Linked DNA regions of Homo sapiens: all the other regions are linked to region 2. The links come from fine-mapping of genetic effects on plasma protein levels. A gene starts in region 2. Each other region holds a variant in brackets. All regions are shown on one strand. Distances are from middle to middle. Region 1 overlaps GPNMB (glycoprotein nmb). Region 2 holds the start of GPNMB (glycoprotein nmb). Region 3 overlaps IGF2BP3 (insulin like growth factor 2 mRNA binding protein 3).

The links. PIP is the posterior inclusion probability: the model's chance that the variant is causal. The UK Biobank Pharma Proteomics Project read protein levels with antibody pairs (Olink). The fine-mapping took linkage between variants from a reference panel, not from the people measured, so its PIPs are less certain.
Region 1: its variant is fine-mapped to the plasma level of the GPNMB protein (UK Biobank, PIP above 0.99). The variant lies in the coding sequence of GPNMB. If it changes the protein, the assay may bind it differently, which can mimic a change of level.
Region 3: its variant is fine-mapped to the plasma level of the GPNMB protein (UK Biobank, PIP above 0.99).

Annotation. Positions count from the first base shown.
Region 1 is chr7:23,263,143-23,270,533 of GRCh38, forward strand. It overlaps GPNMB (glycoprotein nmb), which reads left to right. Exons shown (of 11, transcript NM_002510.3): 7 at 3,375-3,473; 8 at 4,744-4,846; 9 at 6,825-7,033. Among named protein-coding and RNA genes, the nearest start is that of GPNMB, 20 kb to the left of the region's middle. The variant G/A (reference allele first, on the strand shown) is at 3,380.
Region 2 is chr7:23,243,358-23,250,748 of GRCh38, forward strand. GPNMB (glycoprotein nmb) reads left to right here and starts at 3,418. Exons shown (of 11, transcript NM_002510.3): 1 at 3,418-3,570. The coding sequence starts at 3,501. RefSeq lists an enhancer at 4,870-4,989.
Region 3 is chr7:23,330,596-23,337,986 of GRCh38, forward strand. The region is part of intron 10 of IGF2BP3 (insulin like growth factor 2 mRNA binding protein 3); the gene reads right to left. Among named protein-coding and RNA genes, the nearest start is that of MALSU1, 35 kb to the left of the region's middle. RefSeq lists a silencer at 5,075-5,369. The variant A/G (reference allele first, on the strand shown) is at 3,295.

The sequences.
Region 1 (7,391 bases), 20 kb after region 2:
AAGACTTAATGTTAGGTTGTTTAATGTTAGTCTACTTTGAATTGCATTTTTATTAAACTAGCTTGTTTTTCTTATAAACTATTTATATCATAGCATGTTTTAAAAATATATTTGAAGCCAATGAAAAGCTATTTAAAATTTCTGTTGTAATTTCTCCCTAGGTGACACCATAAGATATAAACTAGTGGGCCAGGCATGGTGGCTCACATCTGTAATCCCAGCACTTTGGGAGGCCGAGGCAGGTGGATCACCTGAGGTCAGGAGTTCGAGACCAGCCTGGTCAACATGGTGAAACCCCGTCTCTACCGAAAATATAAAAATTAGCCGGGTGTGGTGGAGAGTGTCTGTAATCCCAGCTACTTGGGAGGCTGAGGCAGAAGAATCGCTTGAACCTGGGAGGTGGAGGTTGCAGTGAGCCGAGATCGCGCCATTGCACTCCAGCCTGGGCGACAAGAGAGAAACTCTGTCTCAAAAAAAAAAAAAAAAAAAGATATAAACTAGCAACCCCTACAAGTTAGTTAAGTTTTATTGCGAAGGAAAGCTGCCTGGCTTTATCTAAAGGTGTTAGATCAATCATAATCAACCCCAAAATGCCTTAAACCAGCATCTCTCTTAGGGAGAGCGAGGAGGGACGTTTCTAAAAGGGGTCTCTTCTAGGGAGCATTTCCAGCTGTACAGGCCATATTAAAGGGCTTGGATGACCAAGTATTATATTATTGTTTGGCCAAAAAATATGTTCTCTCTGCTTTGGTAAGTGGCTTCTTAATAATGCACAGCCGAAAATAGAAATCAAATGCAAATGCAGGAGTGAGGCAGAAGCCAGTTGAAGAGGTGACCCAGGTAGATGTGTTTAAATCTGAGGGCAGATGCATGTGTGCTATTTTTAAGTCACGGAATTCTCTTCACTTAGCTAACAGTGCTATTATTTGTTTTTCAGACTTGTGAACAAATCTGAAAAAAAAAAAAAAAACCTTTTGTAAGACTGATGCTAATTACTGTAATACTCTCTCTATATATAAAATAACATCATATCATAGAGAACTTTCCCAGAGAATCAAGAGCTCTCACACCGTTCTCTGGGCAACAGGGACATAAATACCAAATTAAGGATGAAGTTGACCTTCTTTCTCATCTGTCTTTTAAGGTGTGCGTTTCTCTCCATTAGCCCTTGAATCATACCTTGACTTTATAGACACAATGTTTGCGAAGCTCCATATGCTTTTTTATTTTTATTTTTATTTTTTTTTTGAGATAGAGTCTTGCTCTGTTGCCCAGGCTGGAGTGCAGTAGTGCAATCTCAGCTCACTGCAACCTCTGCCTTCTGGGTTCAAGTAATTCTCCTGCTTCGGCCTCCCTAGTAGCCAGCACTACAGGCATGTGAACCACCATGCCCAGATAATTTTTCTTTATTTTTAATGGAGACTAGGTTCCACCATGTTGCCCAGGTTGGTCTCGAACTCCTGACCTCAAGTGATCCACCTACCTCAGCCTCCCAAAGTGCTGGGATTACAGGTGTGAGCCACCATGCCTGGCCTCCATATGCATTTTAAAAGCATTCTATCTAAGGTAGAATCACTGACTTTTATTATTTGGTCATTTTTTAAGAAAATAAGCTTTATTTCATTTTTAGCACTAAAGTATATGCAGAACAAGAGAAGTTTTATTTTAAAATATGCAGGGTCGTGATTCCATGCTCTAACTTGACAACTAAATTCTGCCTGTCAAGAACTTTCAAAAGAAGAAATTTTATGGTTTTCTGGAGAAGAGCTACTGAACTCGAATGGCCTGCACAAACAATCCTATTGCTGTAGAGTAGATCATCTGAATCTCAGGACAGACAGAACGACTGTCTTGTCATTTCCAGAGGACTAATATGAAACTCAAGGGACATTCCCAAGAGGCTGCCACAGTTCTTCCTGCTGGTAAACCACTGCATTCGATCTAACACAGTGTCTGGGCCTTTCTGGCCTTTACCTGAGCAGCATTTCCCAAAGTGTGTGCCATGGAGCAGTCATTTCTAGACCTGTTCTGAGAACTGCTCTGAGAAATCTGCTTTGGGCACAGGAAAATCACAGGGATGTTCACCCGCTGACGATTCTGAGAAGCCCTGGGGAAATCTCCCAGCCTGCTTCACTCACATGTCACTAAGTTAGAGATGCAGCTCTTATGAGGCTTTGATGTCCTTCCCCAAGACTGAGTCTACTTCACATGTCTTTTGAAATTAAAAAGAAGATTGTATTTTCAGTATCGTTATTTTCTTTCTAGATTTTTTATCTTGCTAAAGGAGCAGCGATGTCTTAATTAGAGCCTGTTAAATTGTAACTAATAGGGCATTAGATTCTTTGCTCTAATTATATTCAAGGCTTATTTTTCAAAAATGTCTTGTATTCCCTCCTTTCCTTCCTCACATCTCTGCTCATCACAGTAAGACTTTTAGAATTTAAGCTTTGGAGCTGTGAGACATCCAAACAGGGAAAGAATGATCTTTTCCCATATTACTGAAAGAAAGAAACTGTGATTTATTAAGTACTCCCTCTGCAGCAGTGATGAGCAGCAGGTTTTATATACTTTATCTCATTTAAGTTTCATAGTTCAGCCCCCAGAGGACAGCAGGTATTGTTCTTATTTTACAGATGAGCAAATAGAGGCAAAAACAGATTAAATGATGTGCCTGTGGTCTCAAACAGCTAAAAACAAGGGAAGCTGGAATTTGAGCCCAGAATACCTGCTTCCAAAATTAAAATATAACTGCATCTAGTATGGCCAGGTTTATTTCTTCATGACCATTGTATCACACATTTTAATACAGTTTCAACCTTTTTTTGAGACGGAGTCTCGCTCTGTCACCCAGGCTGGAGTACAGTGGCGCCATCTCGGCTCACTGCAAGCTCCGCCTCCCAGTTTCACGCCATTCTCCTGCCTCAGCCTCCTGAGTAGCTGGGACTACAGGCGCCCACCACCACACCTGGCTAATTTTTTGTATTTTTTAGTAGAGGCGGGGTTTCACCATGTTAGTCAGGATGGGCTCGATCTCCTGACCTCATGATCTGCCCCCCTCGGCCTCCCAAAGTGCTGGGATTACAGGCATGAGCCACTGCACCCGGCCAGTTTCAACGTCTTATTTGCTTCTTGTGTTCACACAAAATGTGGGATTATGCTTCCTTACATAATTTAGCAATTATAATACCTTATAGCTCTCACATCTGTGTAAATTATGACACATTTAGTTCAAATTTCTATAGCAATTTCATAGTATAGTGTTCCTGATATTTTTCTAAAAAGCAAATGGCAAATGTTTAGATTTTTTATTATATCACATGTATCTTTTATGTTCGTAGCAACTACTCTAAAATCTTATGATTCAAACACCCCAGGACCT[G/A]CTGGTGACAACCCCCTGGAGCTGAGTAGGATTCCTGATGAAAACTGCCAGATTAACAGATATGGCCACTTTCAAGCCACCATCACAATTGTAGGTAAGGCTGAAGATGATGACCAGTGAGGAAGGATGCTAGACTCCACCTAGGGTCACCCACTCTCTCTGCTAACTCTGAAGGGGTAGAGGTAGGTGGTAAGGGCACCCCTCTGCTTGTCTAAGATGACACCACACATGCAAGAGCAAAGACCCCATTCATTTCTAGATTCCCACCTGCCTCCCCGGCCTTCCTTCCACATCCTGGTGGAAACAAGCCTTCTGTGAAGGCCGCATGCTAATGAGCCTGCCCTGGGCCTGTATCCCGCCTCTGCAGCCCAGCCATCTGAATGGGGTATGTAGGGTAAAGGAAGGCTAGCATCGAGTTCCTACAACTTCCACTGTCTTCCCCTAGTTAATTTTCACAAAGTCAGACTTGTATGTGAAAAGGGGAAAGAGCAGGCCACCACACATGGCTGTGCATTTGGGCACAGCCCTAAGGCATACAACAGAGAAGACAGAGGGGAACTGAAGCCCAACCTGTGCTCACCAGTTCTGGGAGTGAGGATGGAGGTGGAAGCCCAAGCAGTGTCCCCTGAGTCCAAGCCACTTGAGAAGCTGGCCAAGGCCTGAGCCTGGGGCTGCGTCTACCCAGGATTACCTTTTCCTGAAACACTTTCCAAGATGGAGTGCTACTTTCTGATGCACACAAAGGCTCTAGGAACAAAAATCTAGGCTGGACTGAAAAACAGTTCAGTTTGACTTTGGAAATGCTGCATGGATATGTATCCTAAGCTATGGGGGTAGATTGCCAGATCTGATGTGTTTCTGTATGGCAAGAGGGCTGTCTTCCTTTTTTAATTTTTTTCACTTTCTGATGTCTTAAGAGCTGTACCTTAGTCCATTCAGGCTTCTATAACAGAATTCCATAGACTGGGTGGCTTATAAACCAACAGCAGGAATTTATTTCTCGTAGTTCTAAAGGCTGGGAAGTCCAAGTTCAAGGTACCAGCACATTCGGTGGCTGGTGAGGACTCACTTCCTGGTTCATAGATGGCAGATAGCAGTCTTCTTGCTGTGTCCTCATGTGGTGGAAGAGGCAAAAGGGCTCTCTGGGGTCACTTTCATAAGGGCATTAATCTCACACATGAAGGCTTCACCCTCATGACCTAACTACCTCCCAAAGACCCCCCTCCTAATGCTATCACCTTGGGGGTTTCAACATATGAATTTCGGAGGGACACAAACATTCAATCTATACCAGAGTGATTGTTTGGCTTTGTTTGATTTCTGTTGTATTTTGATGTGTTTTTCTCTGGGGGTTATTTTGTTAGAGGGAATCTTAGAGGTTAACATCATCCAGATGACAGACGTCCTGATGCCGGTGCCATGGCCTGAAAGCTCCCTAATAGACTTTGTCGTGACCTGCCAAGGGAGGTGAGTATATTATCTCCGACAGAGGCATGGGTGGGTCAACTGAGGACCTCAAGTCTGAACAAAGGCATTGACCACCAGTTACCCCTTTTAAGTTGATTTGAATTCCTATTGATTTGAATTCCTATTTACTGGTAACCCTAGACAGGAAGGTCCCTAGGAGGTGCTATCAAGCACACACATGTTTTGCTACAGTTGAGCAATTGAGAAAGCTTTAACAATTAAGTTGAATAATAATTATGATAACTGTTTGAACACTTAACTGAATTTTTTAACACCTTATACCTGTTCTCATATTGAATCCTCACAACAATCGTATGAGCCTCCCCATTTTGCAGATGAGGCAACTGAGGCCACCAGTGATCACAAAACTTGCCTACCAATGGAATGCTGGTGGCCAGGAGAGAGCAGCTCACAGGAGTGCTCTTAAGCTCCCAGGTAGTTGTCTATGCTAACATTAATAGCAACGCCTGATAATCCTCTCTCTTTAGAATTTACAAAGCTCTTTCCAATGCATTATATAATTTGGTTTCCTATGATTTGGTCATGACCATATGTAATAAACTAAATATAAATGAATGAATATATAAATACTATATCGATTAACTAAATATACATTAGCAAATCATTTGCATATAATATATAAATTACCTGATTAAAATATATGTGTGTGTAGATACATAAATTAATCAGGAGAATGAAGTGGTATGAAGATGTGGCCTTATTTGGTAGAAGAGAAGAGCTAAGAAGCTCTCCACCTTGGGGAGAGGACCAGAATGAGGGTGAGGGTGGCAGAAAACAGTGAAAGCTGACCCAGGGAGTGAAGCTGCTGCGAGAGGCCTGGCTGGTGAGAAGGGGGACTGTCCCCATCCCAGGCCCCGCCCCATGAGTCCAGCATCAGAGCCTGGTCTCTCCATCTAAGAAGGCTGCCATGAGATAGCGGTCAGGACAGCAATGGCAGGTAGCCCAGCATCAAGGACAGATGAGTCAAACCTCTTCTGTTCAAGTCCCAGCTCCACCCCTGGCTGCTTGTATGACCTGGACTCGTTAATCTCTCTCCCTGATTTGTCATCTGTTAAACTGGGGTAATGTTACTTTCTTCAAAAAGCTATTGAGAGAGGCTGGGTGCTGTGGCTCATACCTGTAATTTCAGCACTTTGGGAGGCTGAGGCGGTTGATCACCTGAAGTCAGGAGTTTGAGACCAGCCTGGCCAACATGGTGAAACCCCATCTCTACTAAAAATACAAAAATTAGCCAGGAGTGGTGGCAGGTGCCTGTAATCCCAGCTACTCGGGAGGCTGAAGCAGGAGAATCTCTTGAACCTAGGAGGCAGAGGTTGCAGTGAGCCAAGATCATGCCATTGCACTCCAGCCTGGGCAACAAGAGCAAAACTCTGTCTCAAAACAAACAAACAAACAAAAAAACTATTGAGAGGAATAAGCAAGATCATGTCATATATCTAAAACTCACTCAGAACAAAGGTCTCTGAGGAAAGATAAATAAATAAATAAAATTCAGTGCCCGGCACATAATAAGTCCTGCAAAAACAGCTGCTGCTGTTGCTGTTACACTTCTACAGGAACCTAGGCAGGGCCAACTATGGCATCTAATAATATGTCTGCCTAACACCCAAGCTATCTGCATCTTCGAACATTCTAGGGATGTAGAAGGAATATAGAGGGAGTGAGCTGGGCTTCACGTGGTTTCCATCAGCCCCTTCCCCTGGGGGAGATCTTTTTTTTCTCCTCCACCCCAGGGCCTCACTTTCCTGAGGATGCAGAGAAAGGCATAGCTCAGCGCACAGGCTTGCTTAAGAGCAGATTATAAGACTAACAATTCAGCATCTTATAGTTTGAGTAACAATGAGGTGGAATTCAATTTCATAGAAATGTAATGACTTTCCCTTTGTAAAATGGATCTGACCTTCCTCTCTCCCCTTCTCTGTGCCCTGTGCGCCCTCGCCCACCTCCCCTGTCGCAGCATTCCCACGGAGGTCTGTACCATCATTTCTGACCCCACCTGCGAGATCACCCAGAACACAGTCTGCAGCCCTGTGGATGTGGATGAGATGTGTCTGCTGACTGTGAGACGAACCTTCAATGGGTCTGGGACGTACTGTGTGAACCTCACCCTGGGGGATGACACAAGCCTGGCTCTCACGAGCACCCTGATTTCTGTTCCTGACAGAGGTGAGTTTTGTTTTATGGCCATATGAGCATTTCATACTGCAAGTAAAGTGTGTATCCCATACTAAAGCTATTTAGGCCTTTGTTTTCAATGTTTAATTCTATTTCAGTACAAAATTCATTGAACTCTTATTAATAAGGATCTGAGGACTGGCATTACAATCCAACAGCAAATCTACTTAGGGAAGTGATGAGACATCTGGTGAAATAGTGGCCAAAGAAAAGCCTTTTGATGAAAAAAAATCAGCTGTGATCATGGACCAGTAACAATGGGATATGATCACTGCACGCTTGAATAGATTTGTATTTCAAGGAGAAAGTTTAAAGGCCAATATCAAAAAATAGCAGTGTTCTCCAATGA
Region 2 (7,391 bases):
TTCTTTCCCTGAAAAACTAAGGAAAAACATTTTGGTAGGAGAGTAATTTCAAAGCTTAGTAAATCTGGAGACAGTTCAAATACCAGTTTAAACTGAGCAGTTCCTAAAATTAAAGATGTGAATTCCTTGGCAGCCTGCCGGGATTCCTGGGTGTGCCTGCTGCCTGCCATTTCGAAGGTCTCCTTTGGGGTGGCTGCCTCAGTCCTCACAGCTCAAGCATCGCTCCTCAAGTCGGGACTGTGGCCACCAGGAGGAGTGTCAGAAGCCAAGAGAAGGCAATTTGGGGCATTTCTCAAAAGTTGACTATTCTGGTCGGGCGCGGTGGCTCACGCCTGTAATCCCAGCACTTTGGGAGGCCGAGACGGGCGGATCACGAGGTCAGGAGATCGAGACCATTCTGGCTAACACGGTGAAACCCCGTCGCTACTAAAAATACAAAAAATTAGCCGGGCGAGGTGGTGGTCGCCTGTAGCCCCAGCTACGCGGGAGGCTGAGGCAGGAGAATGGCGTGAACCCTGGGGGGCGGAGCCTGCAGTGAGCCGAGATCGCGCCACTGCACTCCAGCCTGGGCGACAGCGAGACTCCGCCTCAAAAAAAAAAAAAAAAAAAAAAAAAAAAGTTGACTATTCTTTGCTTTCCTCCACATCATTTCCGAACAGAGTAATTGTATCTGTAATTCCAGATAATTGAGATGTTTCCCTTTTCATTTCTCAATTGCCTTAAGGCGAGTTGATTAGCAACCTTCATCCCCCCAGCCATATAATATATTTACCAGACCTGGCAATTAGGATCTGAACGGAACAATTTTTCTTTCTTTTCTTTTTTCTTTTCTTTTCTTTTCTTGTCTTTTCTTTCTTTCTTTCTTTCTTTCTTTCTTTCTTTCTTTCTTTCTTTCTTTCTCTTTCTTTCTTTCCTTTCTTTCTCTTTCTTTCCTTCCTTCTTTCTTTCTTTTCTTTCTTTTTCTTTCTTTCTTTCTTAAGAGATGAAGTCTCACTACATTGCCCAGGCTGGACTCAAACTCCTGGGCTTAAGCAATCTTCCCGCTTCAGCCTCTGAAGTCACTGGGACTTCAGGTACACATCAGTACACCAGCTCAAAAAATTATTTCAACAAAATATTTCAAACTTTCTTTACAGTATAATTTTATCTTTCCAAAACAAACAAACAGGCTTGAGAATATTCTTTACCCAAAATGGCCCTGTCTCTGAGTCCTACATAGAGTTAACTACTTTATATATTATCAACCATTGATTATCAAGAAACAGATTATCCAACTTGTAGTTCTTTGGAATGAAGATCTTTCTCTTGTTCTCTTATTCACCTCTGTCCAGCTGCCTACATTTTGACTCTTGTCCTATCAGTGCCTCTTCTCTTTGATGGTGCAGGGAAGGAAAAAAGACATAAAAGTTGATTTGATCATTGTGTCTCCCTAAACAAAACGAAGGTTTTGTTACAGAAGAATTTAACACTTCCAATTTATTTAGAGACGGGGTGGCTAATCTGGCTAGAAATATGAGCCAGAACTGTGTCTGCAACAAAGGACAAAAATATCTTTAAAAATGTTAATAGTAGCTTTTCCTTAAATTGAAAAGGTGTTTTTTTTTAATTGTAAAAGTTATGTGTTTGTCATAAAAAGCAAATAGTGCTGTAGGCAGCTGAGGTGGGAAGATCACTTGAGGCCAGGAGTTCAAGACCAGCCTGGGCAGCATAGTGAGATTTTTGTCTCTACAAAAAATAAAAAGCAAATAAAAAATTAGCCGAGTGTGGTGGTGTGTGCCTGTAGTCCTACCTACTTGGAAGGCTGAGGTGGGAGGATCACTTGAGCCTAGGAGTTCAAGGCTGCAATGAGCTATAATCATGCCACTGCACTCCGGCCTGGGCAACAGAGTGAGAGCCTGTCTCTAAAAAAAAAAAAAAAAAAAGTTTTTAAGTAATTTAAAAAGCAAATAACTATATACATTATTCGCTTTACATTACATGAAACTAATAAGTATTTCCATTATTCCTTTATTCATCAATATTTGAAAATTGTTTCAGTCATGAATAATGTGTTCCTTTCGTTGTTTTCCCCTTCATATTTGCTGCAAAGGCTGTAAAAGGCACTCTACAGAGTTGTTTGCCGCCTTAGGGATGGAAGTCAGCCACTCCTGCTGTATGGATTTTAGTTTCATAGGCTATTTCCATTCCTCCTTGACACACTGAACCATAAATCAATACCCCAAGTTTTACCCTCACCTGCAACCAAGGTTTCTACTGCACTGAAAATGGCCATGTGAATGTGAGTTTGAGAAAGGTCACATATGGTAAAGTTTTCATGTTGCCACATTTTCTGCATACTCTGTAACCAGGAATGATTTGACTGTATAAATTTATCTTACAGACACACTTGTTTGTACATTTAATGCCTGCTTTCTATAATATGAAAAAATACACAGAACGTTTTATGCAATTGGCTCTGAGTAATGCAACACATAAATGCTTTGAGAGCAGTTACCAAAAATTATGCAGGTTATTACAAAAGTTATATGGAATTGCACAGATATTCTAAATGTGCTTTTGAGTAAATTTCTCAGCTACCAGAGGCCTGGGCAGCTGTTTCCAGCACATCCTGGCACAACATTCATGTTATCATCCACTTATGTATTCCACAATTTCAAATGATTGATAAGACACCTCCCCCATCTTTGCTTCCTCTTGGAGGAAAAAAATATACAAGCAATCACGAGCACAGGAGCAGGTGGACAACTACATCTTAGGAAAGGGTGCGTAACTGTGAACTCTAAACGTGAGCTGGGTGCCTGATGCAGTATAGGAACCACAGTAAGTCGATAATCAGTGAGGCTGGAGGATTGAAATTTTATTTGGTAAAGAATATTGAGCCAGGCGCGGTGGCTCATGCCTGTAATCCCAGCACTTTGGGAAGCCGAGGCGGGCAGATCACAAGGTCAGGAGATCGAGACCAGCCTGGCCAACATAGTGAAACCTGCCTCTACTAAAAATACAAAAAATTAGCCGGGCATGGTGGCGGGCACCTGTAATTCCAGCTACTCAGGAGGCTGAGGCAGGAGAATGGCTTGAACCTGGGAGGTGGAAGTTGCAGTGAGCTGAGATCGTGCCATTGCACTCCAGCCTGGGAGACAGTGTGAGACTCCATCTCAAAAAAAAAAAATGAATATTGAAATAGAGTCTATAGGAAAAAAACTCCTTGAATCTAGTAAATGTGGAATCACAAAATTGAAATAATGTGCATCTGAAAAGTGAATAAATAGATGCCAAGAAGGAGTGAGTCATAAGCACATGAGTTGTAAGAGGTTGAACTTGAGAGACCAGATCAGGCAGTGCCGCTTAATACCATCACATGATCCTCCCCGAGGCCCTGTATTTAATTAAAATAGAGAGGGAGGCACCACAGATGCCAGAAGAACACTGTTGCTCTTGGTGGACGGGCCCAGAGGAATTCAGAGTTAAACCTTGAGTGCCTGCGTCCGTGAGAATTCAGCATGGAATGTCTCTACTATTTCCTGGGATTTCTGCTCCTGGCTGCAAGATTGCCACTTGATGCCGCCAAACGTGAGTAACCCTTAATTTCTATGTTTAACCCATTCTCTGGCCATTGGCTGAAATGATGGCTAATAATATCCTCTGAACTAGAGGTTGGACTGAAGTTCTTCAGGAAGCTTTCATCTCTGGCTCACTCATCTCTTCTTCTGCAAACTGTTGGGAAGGCTGAAACTACAGCAAAATGCCTCCAGCTCCATTCTTTGCTTTCGGCTCATGGAAAGTAAAAACTATGCTGCCCTTCTCTTGTGAAGCTTCTTTTCCATTGCAATTGCAACCCATTCTTGCCAGACAGTGGTTGGGGGAGGGTTGGACAGCCTCCGGCCACAGAACAAAGCAACTCCACCAACTAAACTATGTCCAGCTTCCATCCAAAAGGGTGGAGACCTCACATGAAATGGGGTCTCCAATCTGGAGGCAAATTTACGAATCTCCCCAGCCCTGAAGCTATTGCTCCTCCTGCGGGGCTTCCTCACAGACCTGCAGGAGCTTGCTGGGAGAGGAGCTGAAGCCCAGGCTCTCTACCCTGGTCAGGCAGGAGAGGCCAGGGCATTTTTAACAATACTGATACCCACGCAATGAAACCGGAATCTTTGGGAGTGGGGTCAGAGGATCCTTGTTTTAAAAGTTCCTCTTGGGATCTGCCTATGCAGCCAGGGTCCAGACCACTGAAGCAGTGTGCAGATTCGCGAGAGGAAGAGAGCTGAGCCGCTGTAACCCTGGGCCTGGGATTGCGGGGACGGGACGGGTGGGAAGCGGCCAAAGGCGCAGCGGCTTCTGGTCAGAGCCGCAGAGGCCTGAGACGTGGGCCGCGCCCCGGCCCAGGAGACCCCGCGGCCGCGCCCTAACCCTCAGTCTCCCGACTGCGACTGCGACCCGGGAAAACGCCTACGTTTTTGGAAAGGAAGTCCCATCACAGGGAGCTGACCCGGTGTCAGCGCGCAGCACGTTCCCGGCCCGCAGTGCGCCGCGCGTCCTCCTAGCAGCCCGCGGAGCCCGGCACTGTGATGGTCCCGCTTCCCACACGAGGCCACGGGCCACAGAGTGGGCAAGGAACTCGCCCCAAGCCACACAGCGGGTAAGTTGAGGAGGCAGCCTTCCATCCCGACCTCTGTCCTTCCTGCCCGGGTTTGGGGTTGGACAGGCTCGGGCTCCCCGCCAGCCTAGGGGCTGGGTCTCCAGTGGCTTTGCTCCATTTCCTCATTTCCTTCAAAACGAGGAGTTTTCGTTTCCTCATTTGCAAAACTGGGTAATTGTGTTCTTGTGAGATCAGCTGCTTGGCGTGAGAGACGTGCATGGTGGGGATTGTTCCTACGGAGGCAGACCTGCACCCACCCTCAGGATACCTCCCAGGACAGGCTACTTTAAAGACGAAGGAACACAGAATAGACCCGATGGGGGACACCTGCTATTATTCCACCCTCTTTCACCAGTCCACTTCGCTCTGCTCAATAAAACAGATTAGCAGGAGGCCGAATCAGCGCTGTCAGCTCGAGAGGAGTCCTCAGCCTCTTGGGCAGTGTAACAAAACCCAGCCATTCACCAGGTTCACCTTGCTCTGGACTAAATATTCTGCCCAGAAAAAAATAAGGGCAGGCAGAATGTAGCAGTGTATCAAGCACTAAAGATTTCCTACCATTTTCCATTCGTAGCCCTGAAGGAAGGAGAAAGTGTGGACAAGGTAGGTGGAGGCAGCCCAGCCACCACCTCTCTGCTGGTGGACACAGCAAGGATGCCAAAGTGTGGAGGCAGAGTCGGCTGCAGCACTGGGTGCGACCTCAAATTTACCTTCACATTGATTGCCCCCAAAACCCACCCCCACAGGCTTTTATTTTTCTTTTAAAATCTGCTTACTATTGGGTTTTTTTTTTTTTAATCAATTTTTTTAGAGACAGGGTCTTACTCTCACCCAGGCTGGAGTGCAGTGGTGTGATCACAGCTCACTGCAGCCTCCAACTCCTGGGCTAAAGGTGATCTTCCACCTCAGCCTCCTGAGTAGCTGGGACCACAGGCACGTGCCACCACACCCAGATAATTTTTGTATTTTTTGTAGAAATGGGATCTTACTACATTGCCCAGGCTGGCCTCAAACTTCTGGGCTCAGTCCTCCCTTGGCCTCCCAGAATGCTAGGACTACAGGCATGAGCCACCTTATCCGGATGGGTTTATTTTATTTTTTAAATTTTTGTAGAGACAGGGTTTTGCCATGTTGCCCAGGCTGGTCTGGAACTCCTGGGCTCAGGCAATCGCCCACCCTCAGCCTTCCAAAGTGTTGGGATTACAGGCATGAGCCATTGCATCCGGCCTTTATTTTTAAATTCAACTTTTTATTGTGAGGTATTTATAGATTCACATACTGTTGTAAGAAATAATACAGAGAGATCCCCATGCACCCTTTACCTGGTTTGCCCCAGTGGTATCATCATGCAAAACAGGACATCACAGCCCAGATATTGACATTGATACAGTGAAAACACAGCAGAGCTCCATCACCAAAGTATTCTCATGGCTATAGATGTATAGCCAAATCTACTTCCCTCTTTCCAAACCTCACCCAGTCCCTGGCAACCACTAATCTGGTTTCCATTTTTATCATTTTGTAATTTCCAAAATTCTATACAAATGGAATTATCCAGTATGTAACCTTTTGAGATTTGCTTTTTTTAAAACCCAACATAATTTCCTGGAACTTTATTGATTTATTGAAGTAACTGCATCAATAGTTTGTTCCTCTTTGTCACAGAGTAGTATTCCATGGTATGGATGTACCACAGTTTGCTTAACCATTCACCCATTAAAGGACATCTGGGTTATTTCAATTTGGGCTATTATGAATAAAGCTGCTATAAATATTCATGTGCAGATCTCTGTGAGAATATCAGTTTTGTTTCTCTGGGATGCATGCCAAAGGGTACAATTTCTTGGTTGTATGATAGTTGCATGTTTAGTTTTGCAAGAAACTAACAGAGTGGCTGTACCATTTTACATTTCCACTAGTAATGTGTGAGCAATCCAGTTTCTCTACATCCTTGCAAGCATTTGATGTTGTCACTGCTTTTTAGTTAGGTCTTACTGATAGGGATATAGTGATATTTCACTACTGGCTAATGATGTTGAATATCTTCTTGTGTGTTTATTTGCCATGAGATGAATGAAATGGTGAAATATCATTTCATTAATTTTTACCAATTTTTCTAATTGAATCCCGTGGTTTTCTTATAGTGAGTTTTGAAAATTCTTTATATATTCTAAATACTAGTCCTTTATTGGAAGTGTAGTTTACAAATAATTTCTCCCAGTCTGTAGCTTGCCTTTTCATCCTCTTTCATGTCATGTTTCAGAGAGCAAAGGTTTTTTATTTTAATGAGTTCCAATTTCCTGTTACGGGTTGTGTTCATGTCAAGTCTAAGAATTCTTGCCTAGTCCTAGATCCTGAAGATTTCACCTATGCTTTTTGCTTTTTTACAGCACCATATGTTGAAAAGGCTATCTTCCCTCCATTGGCTTGTTTTTGCATCTTTGTCCAAAATCAAGCCAGGCACTGTAGTGCTTGCCCGTGGTCCTAGCTAATCGGAAGGCTGGGGCAGGTAGATCACTTGAGCCCAGGAGTTTGAGTCCAGCCTGAGCAACATAGTGGGACCCCCATCTCTTCAAAAAAAAAAAAATTAGTAGAGCATGCTTGTGTGGGTCTATTTCTGGATTCTCTCTTCTATTCCATTGACCTATGTGCCTATCCCTTGTAACTCTCCTTTTAAGTTTATACTTTTCCTGGGCTTCTGACATTTAAAATCGGAAGAGAAATCTGCGTTTTGATTATGTTCCTGGAAACAATA
Region 3 (7,391 bases), 87 kb after region 2:
GGGGTGGACTGAAGATTAAGAACTGAAAGCAACAACTGAAAGCAAGCAATGTTGGCCGGGCTGGTCTTGAACTCCTGACCTCAGGTGATCCGCCCGCCTTGGCCTCCCAGAGTGCTGGAATTACTCAGGTAGTTCTTTATAGCGGTGTGAAAACAGACTAATATATACTAGACATACGGTCTAGAATCATACATTGCTTTTTCTTGTTTTTTCTGAGACGGAGTCTTGCTCTTTTGCCCAGGCTGGAGTGCAGTGGCACAATCTCGGCTCACTGCAACTGCAACCTCCGCCTTCCAAGTTCAAGCTATTCTCCTGCCTCAGCCTCCCGAATAGCTGGAATTACAGGTGCACACCACCATGCCCGGCTAATTTTTGTATTTTTTAGTAGAGATGGGGTTTTACCATGTTGGCCAGGCTGGTCTCAAATGCCTGACCTCAAGTGATCCGCCCACCTCAGCCTCCCAAAGTGTTGGGATTACAGGCATGAGCCACTGCGCCCGGCTGCTTTATTTTTCATAAAAGTGAAAGGCATGATTTATACTAAGATGATTTCTTCCTTTCTTTAATAAATTTATTGACCATAAAATACATGTACTACCATGATGATTTGGGACCATGATGATTTGGAACTGTCTGTCAATTTTAAAAGTTTGTGCTCTTTGACTTAGAAGTTCTATTACATAAATTCTTAGAAGTATTTGTACCAAGGCACAGAAGTTTATGTTTAAAAATTTGATTGCATCATTACATGAATTAGTGAAAAATGGAAAACTGAACTTTCTGAAAATCTTTATAAAGCACCTTCAGATATAGCTAAATAACTGTCAGGTGAAGATAAAGGAATTGAAACTTTTAAGTTGCAAAGTATCTTAAACGTGCATAAGATGGGTGTGTACAGATGAGACAGAGTGAGACTCTGTCTCAAAAACAAAAACAAAAAACAAACAAAAAAAGAACTACCCAAGAATGGGTAATTTATAAAGAAAAGGAGTTTAGACTCACCCCTGTAATCCTAACACTTTGGAAGGCCAAGGTGGGTGGATCACCTGAGGTCAGGAGTTCGAGACCAACCTGGGCAACATGGTGAAACCCCGTCTCTACTGAAAATACAAAAATTAGCTGGGCGTGGTGGCGTGTGCCTGTAGTCCCAGCTACTCGGGAGGCTGAGGCAGGAGAACTGCTTGAACCTGGGAGGCAGAGGTTGCAGTGAGCTGAGATTGTGCCACTGCACTCCAGCCTGGGTGACAGAGCGAAACTGTCTCAGAAAAAAAAAAAAAAGAAAAAAAAAAGGAGTTTAATTGACTCAGTTGGCTGGGCAGGCCTCAAAAAACTTACAATCGTGGCGGAAGACAAATGGGTAACAAGGTACGTCTTACTTGGCGGCAGGAGGGAGAGAGAGAGAGTAAGGGATGGGGCAAGTGTCACACCTTTAAACCCTTAGATTTCATGAGAACTCACTATCACAAGAACAGCAAGGGGGAAATCCGCCCCCATGATCCAATCACCTCCCACTGACAAGTGGGAATTACAATTCAAGATGAGATTTGGGTGGGGACACAGCCAAACCATATCAACTAGTTTCCTACAAATGAAAATCACTTAAACTCTATTGTCTCTTCCTTTATATCTTCAATCCCCATCATGTACCTCTTATTTATGTAAGAGTTAACCCAAAATTCAATTCATCATCTCTAATCACCCACCCATCTCTAATCATTTGTTTCTTCAGCACCTGTATAAACAGATGTACTAAATTTGTACCATATTGTTTACAACTTGGCAAAGTTCTCTGGCATACTCCATGTTTTCTAGGATAATGTAACACACTGCAAGTATTAATATAGCTGTTAGCTAAATGAAATCTCCCTTCTGGCTATTCAGCATTTTTAGAACACATACATCAGAAGAAGACTTGCCTTCCTACTAAACTATTATGTGGAGATTTGTGTTAGGGGCCTGTCCTGCACAGCTTGGCCAGATCACTTCTGTTTCTCTTCACCAACAAAGAACACAAAATAAAATTATTTCATTCTTCACTATTTAAGTCAGAAGAACAGCATCTCTCTTTGGAAGATACTATATAACTCACAGCCCCCAGTGTGTCACACAATTACCATGTGTCATTTATCCCTTTATGGCCTTTTTTATTTTATAACTGGATAGACCAAGTGAATTAATGCCAACACTGACTATCAACTGTGCTCAATGTTAGCATTACTTCATCATTCTGGTCCTTGTATCAAGACCATTAAGTTAATCTTGACCATTTTAAAAAAAATTAAGGGTGGGATCTAAATATTTTATCTCACTAAGAATGTCCGTATTATGTTCTTCTGAACAATATACTTGGGGGAAGCTGGTGGTGATAAAGACCTTTTCAATGGTCAAACTAAACCTAATGTGTAACTTTCCCAGATTTACCCCACAGTATTTTGTCATGACTGTGTAATTATTTGTTTCCTGGGCTTTGTTCCAAAAAGAATTTTATGCTGCTTATAAAATACACATAATCTGTAAAGATAAAACAAAGGAGGTGAAGAAATAAGAGCATAGGGAACTGAACACTCAAGATAAGATGAAGCCAAAAATGCTGTTATACAAATCTGGCTTTAAGCTTCCTCGCAGCTAATTTTTTAAAAAGTTAGTTGCATGATTTCCCATGACTATGAGAGAAAAACTATTCATTTACTTATTAAAAAATGACTATTCCTGGTACTGGTTTCAGAGAGCAATTCCTAAATATCCCCAGAGAACACTAATGTAGCAGCATCCTCCTCAGAGTGAAAGCCTGGCCCGAACATGCATGTGTCTTAGCCTGGAACACGTCCAAGGCTGCTGTTGTGAGAAACAAAAACAAAGTTATCTTTCTGACATAGTGATGAAGGGCTGTCCATGTTCTTGTTTTGCTGATGAGAAATAACAAACCCAAAATGAAGCTTAAGCATAAACTTAAGAGAAATGTTGTGTGAAGCTTTGGAAAAGGAATAGTGGCCAGTAGATAAGGGTCAAAAGGACCAAAATGTAACAGAAAAAAAGGGCACATACATGAAGAATCAATGTGTAGACTTTAAAATGTCCTATCCTGGAATGAAAACAGAAGCAACAGAACTTGTCAAATAGAAGCAGCAGAGTTAGAAGCAAACTAAGTGTTTTTCCACACCAGGAGATGCTGCCCTAGAATGACAGACAATGATGTGTGCTGTTGGCAATCATGTCTTGAAGAAAAGTTGACTCATCAGATGTCTGAGGCTTGGTGAAGACATTTCTGAACGTCGTCCAATTCCCTTTGCTCCA[A/G]TTTCCTATCCATGAAGCATCTTCTTAACCAAAGATTACTTTTCAAGAAAATTTTCCTCTGGGAATGTAAGGCAGCTCACATAAATATGCTGTCAACTTTTGCCAATCATTAAATTGGCTCTCTGGTACACTTCATTCTTATATGGGATTCAGAATAAGCCATGAGCCGGGTGCTGTGGTTCACGCCTGTACTCCCAGCACTTTGGAAGGCTGAGGCGGGCGGATCCCTTGAGGTCAGGAGTTCGAGACCAGCTGGGCTGATATGATGAAACCCCATCTCTACTAAAAGTACAAAAATTAGCTGGGCACGTGACTGTAATTCCAGCTACTCAGGAGGCTGAGGCAGGAGAATCGCTCGAATCTGGGAGGTGGAGGTTACAGTGAGCCAAGATCATGACACTGCACTCCAGAGCCTGGGCAACAGAGCGAGACTCTGTCTCAAAAAATAAAAAAGAAAAGAAATCGAGACTAAAATAAGCCTATGCTAGAACAAGCCTGTGTCAGGATTTGGACACCCCAAATAGGCAGATAATTTAAATTTTTACTTGCAAAACTCAGCAGGCAGAGCAAAAGTTATAAGCCTTTTTCACCTGAATTTAAGTCTATGAGACCTAGGTTGGAAAAGGCCCATTAGCGTTACCCAGTCTTGTTACACATTCCTTCCATTTAAGTTAAGGTCTAGTTGCATTGTCTGAACCTTTTCTTGGATACATTCTTTGGGACTGAAGGATGTTCACAGGACATAAGCTGCTTCCCAATGGATTTGTGCCAGATGCCTATCGGCAAAACTTCCTTTGGACTTCTTGGCAGACTCTCAACTACGGCTTGAAATAACAGAAGAACAAAGCTGCTCAACTGAAAGTTTGCATAACTGGTGAAGTCTGCCAATGAGTAATTCCTAATCATCTATCGTGAAGACATACAAGTATGAGCAAACAGTAAGGTTAAGTGTATTTACTTTGTGGGGGACAAAATCTAAGACATCACAAAGGCATGGAGACATGCATGTCAGCCAACATGATCAGCCTCCAGGTACCTGGAAGGATGCCACGGTTTCCCTTTGGCTTGTAAAATAGATACTCCTGGGTTTTTTTGTTGTTGTTTTTAAATGGATTTTGGTCTGGAACTGAAACTAAGTTTACTCAACTCCATGACCTGAACAAAATATTGAAGTCTTTAACATTAAAAAAAAAAAAAAAAAAAAAAAGGCAAAGAAAGTTTTTCACCATAACTAGATAACCAAGGCTTCTCAGAGATAATAAATGTGCACAGTGAGTTACTTACTTAGAAATTGTTTACCAACAAAAGAGTTGCACCCACTGTGAGAAATCTTAAGGAGGAAGACTAAGAGACTCCCTGAAACACTCATCTGATTTAAAAAATTCCTTCCAACTCATAATTTTTTTTTTTTTGGACAAGGTCTCACTCTGTCACCCAGGCTGGAGTGCAGTGGCTCAATCACGGATCACTGCAGCCTTGACCTCCCTGGGCTCAGGTGATCTTCCTACTTTAGCCTTCCAAGTAGCTGGGATAGGCAAAGGCCACCACCCCCGGCTAATCTAAAAAAGTTTTTTTTTTTTTGTAGAGACAGAGTTCTCCCTATGTTGCCCAGCCTGATCTCAAGCAATCCTCTTACCTTGGCCTCCCAAAGTGCTGGGATTACAGGCATAAACCACCGCGCCTGGCCCTTTGTTTCTTAAAGAGTACCTTAAGCCTAAAAAAGTGCTAATCTCTCTTGCCTCTTTCATAAGCAGAAAGCTAGCCATTTTAAGATTACACTATCATTTTGGAGACTTCTGAGAAGACTCCAAAGAGGCTATCAAAACTGAAGCCAGCAGCCCTTGGGATTACTTCTGCCAATCCAACTGTATGCTGCCAAGACCATCCAGCTAAGGCGACACGCACTATGCCAATTCCAGCTCTTGCTCTGCTTCACTAGCTGCCAATTCCTTCTTCCCTACTGTTTGAGCATTTCTGAAAGGCGCGTTTCCTGTCATTTATAAACTCGAAGTTTGCCAGTTAAGTACTGTACGAGCCAGCTGCTAGGCAGGAACTAGAGACTTTTTGTCTGTTGGAAGAACCAACTCTTTGGCTCTGGGGAGACTCAACCTGGCAAGTTCTGGGAAGAAGAGAATATTGTGGGGGAACTAGTAGGCAAAGTTCTAGAATGGAATAGAGGCAAGGGATTTATCCAAAGAAGAGATGCATCATTTCTACTTTCATGCTACAAAGCAGGAATGAGAAAACATGAGTAGAGAAATGCAACAATTCTAAAAGAAAAAGGAAGTAGTATATATTAAAAAAAAAAAATTATTTGAAACATTTAGCCATCAAAACCTACTTCTTGACAGGCAATATACATTTAAAATAAAAGCAGAAGTTCACTGTTAACCTACAAGACATCAAGGATAAACACGATCTTAGTACGTAATCTGTGATAGCTTCAAAGGAACAGCAAGCTTCTCATCAGCAAGTATAGATACCAGAATGCAGTTCAGGAACAGTTTAAAAGTGCTGAGAGCAAAATGCCCGTCCATCTTTAACTTTCTAAACCATTTTTTTTTTTTTTTAAATAACATCATAGACCCTCACAAACATAAAACAGTATGTTCTTTTTTTCTCTTCTTTTTTTTTGAGACAGAGTCTTGCTTAGTCACCCAGGCGGGAGTGCAGTGGCACGATCTCGGCTCATTGCAACCTCCACCTCCTCGGCTCATCGCAACGCCTGGTTGTTATCATTGCTTCTTTTTGGCTTCATTTTTCTTGCTAAAGAATAGGCCGGCTGCAGTGGCTCACGTCTGTAATCCCAGCACTTTGGGAGGCCGAGATGGGTGGATCACTTGAGGTCAGGAATTCGAGACCAGCCTGGCAAACATGGTAAAACCCTGTCTCTAATAAAAATACAAAAATTAACCAGGCATGGTGCTGCGCACTTGTAATCCCAGCTACTCGGGAGGCTGAGGTATGAGAATCACTTGAACCCAGGATGCGGAGTTTGCAGTGAACCGAGATTGCGCCACCACACTCCACCCTGGGTGACAGGGCAAGACTCTGTCTCCAAAAGAAAAAAAAAAAAGAAGCAATGATAAGCAAAGAAACTGGTAAAGCTTTGGGAAATTTACTGCCTTTAAAAACAATAGTTTATTTGTATTTCAAAAAGTGGTGACCACTAGGTACACAAAATAGTTAAGTATTAGTGATTTCGGTTTAGAAAAAGAACAAAGTCTAAAAATAGTGAAGGCAAAGCTATTCCAACTGAGTACTTGCAACCACCCCCCACCCCCTGCAACTTGAAGTTATATACTCAAACAACACTTGTTAAAGAATTGTTCCCCTGAACATTAAGCCAGAAAATTGCCTAGCAGCTGTTTGAAAGTAGAATTTACTCTAATTGTATCCAGGGACAATATGATTTTCTGAATAATGGTGTTTTCTCTTTATTTAGATGAAAATAACCACAGGAATGGGAATCTGGAATATGGAATTTTCTCCTCCAGAATTTAGATTCTGCTTTTTGAGAGAACTTAAAAGCTTGCTTCCTCTCTTCCAGGCTCTGGGAGGCTCCTTTAACAGGCAATAGTGCCAAATCCAGTGAAGCAGACAAATAGCTGTCCCCAACATGTATTTTCCTTTAGTAACAGATCCTGTGTTTAATGGGCACATTGCTGCCCTCACACAGGGATTGTCTCCCAGCTTCTCTTGCAGCTAGACACAGCCAGTGGTATGTTCTGGCCAACATGAGGCAAACAGAAGTATGAAAAGCTATCCTCAGGCAGTGTCCTTAAATAAGGATGCTGCCAATTTTGATCCTTTATCCTTTTTTCAGTTTGAAATGAGGTCTCACCACATTGCCCAGGCTGGACTGAAATTCCTGGGCTCAAGCAATCCTCCCACCTCCGCCTCCCCAGTAGCTGGGACTACAGGTGTCTGTCACCACATCCAGCAATCCTTTATCCTTCTTGTTGGCTGGAAACAGACCCAATAGTTGGAGCTTGAGCAGTTATCCTGGGCCAGGGAATGGCACACAAGGCAGATAGAAGCACCAGTCCTGAAGGATATGGTGGAACCACTTCCAGCCTTGGATTGTCTACCCTTGA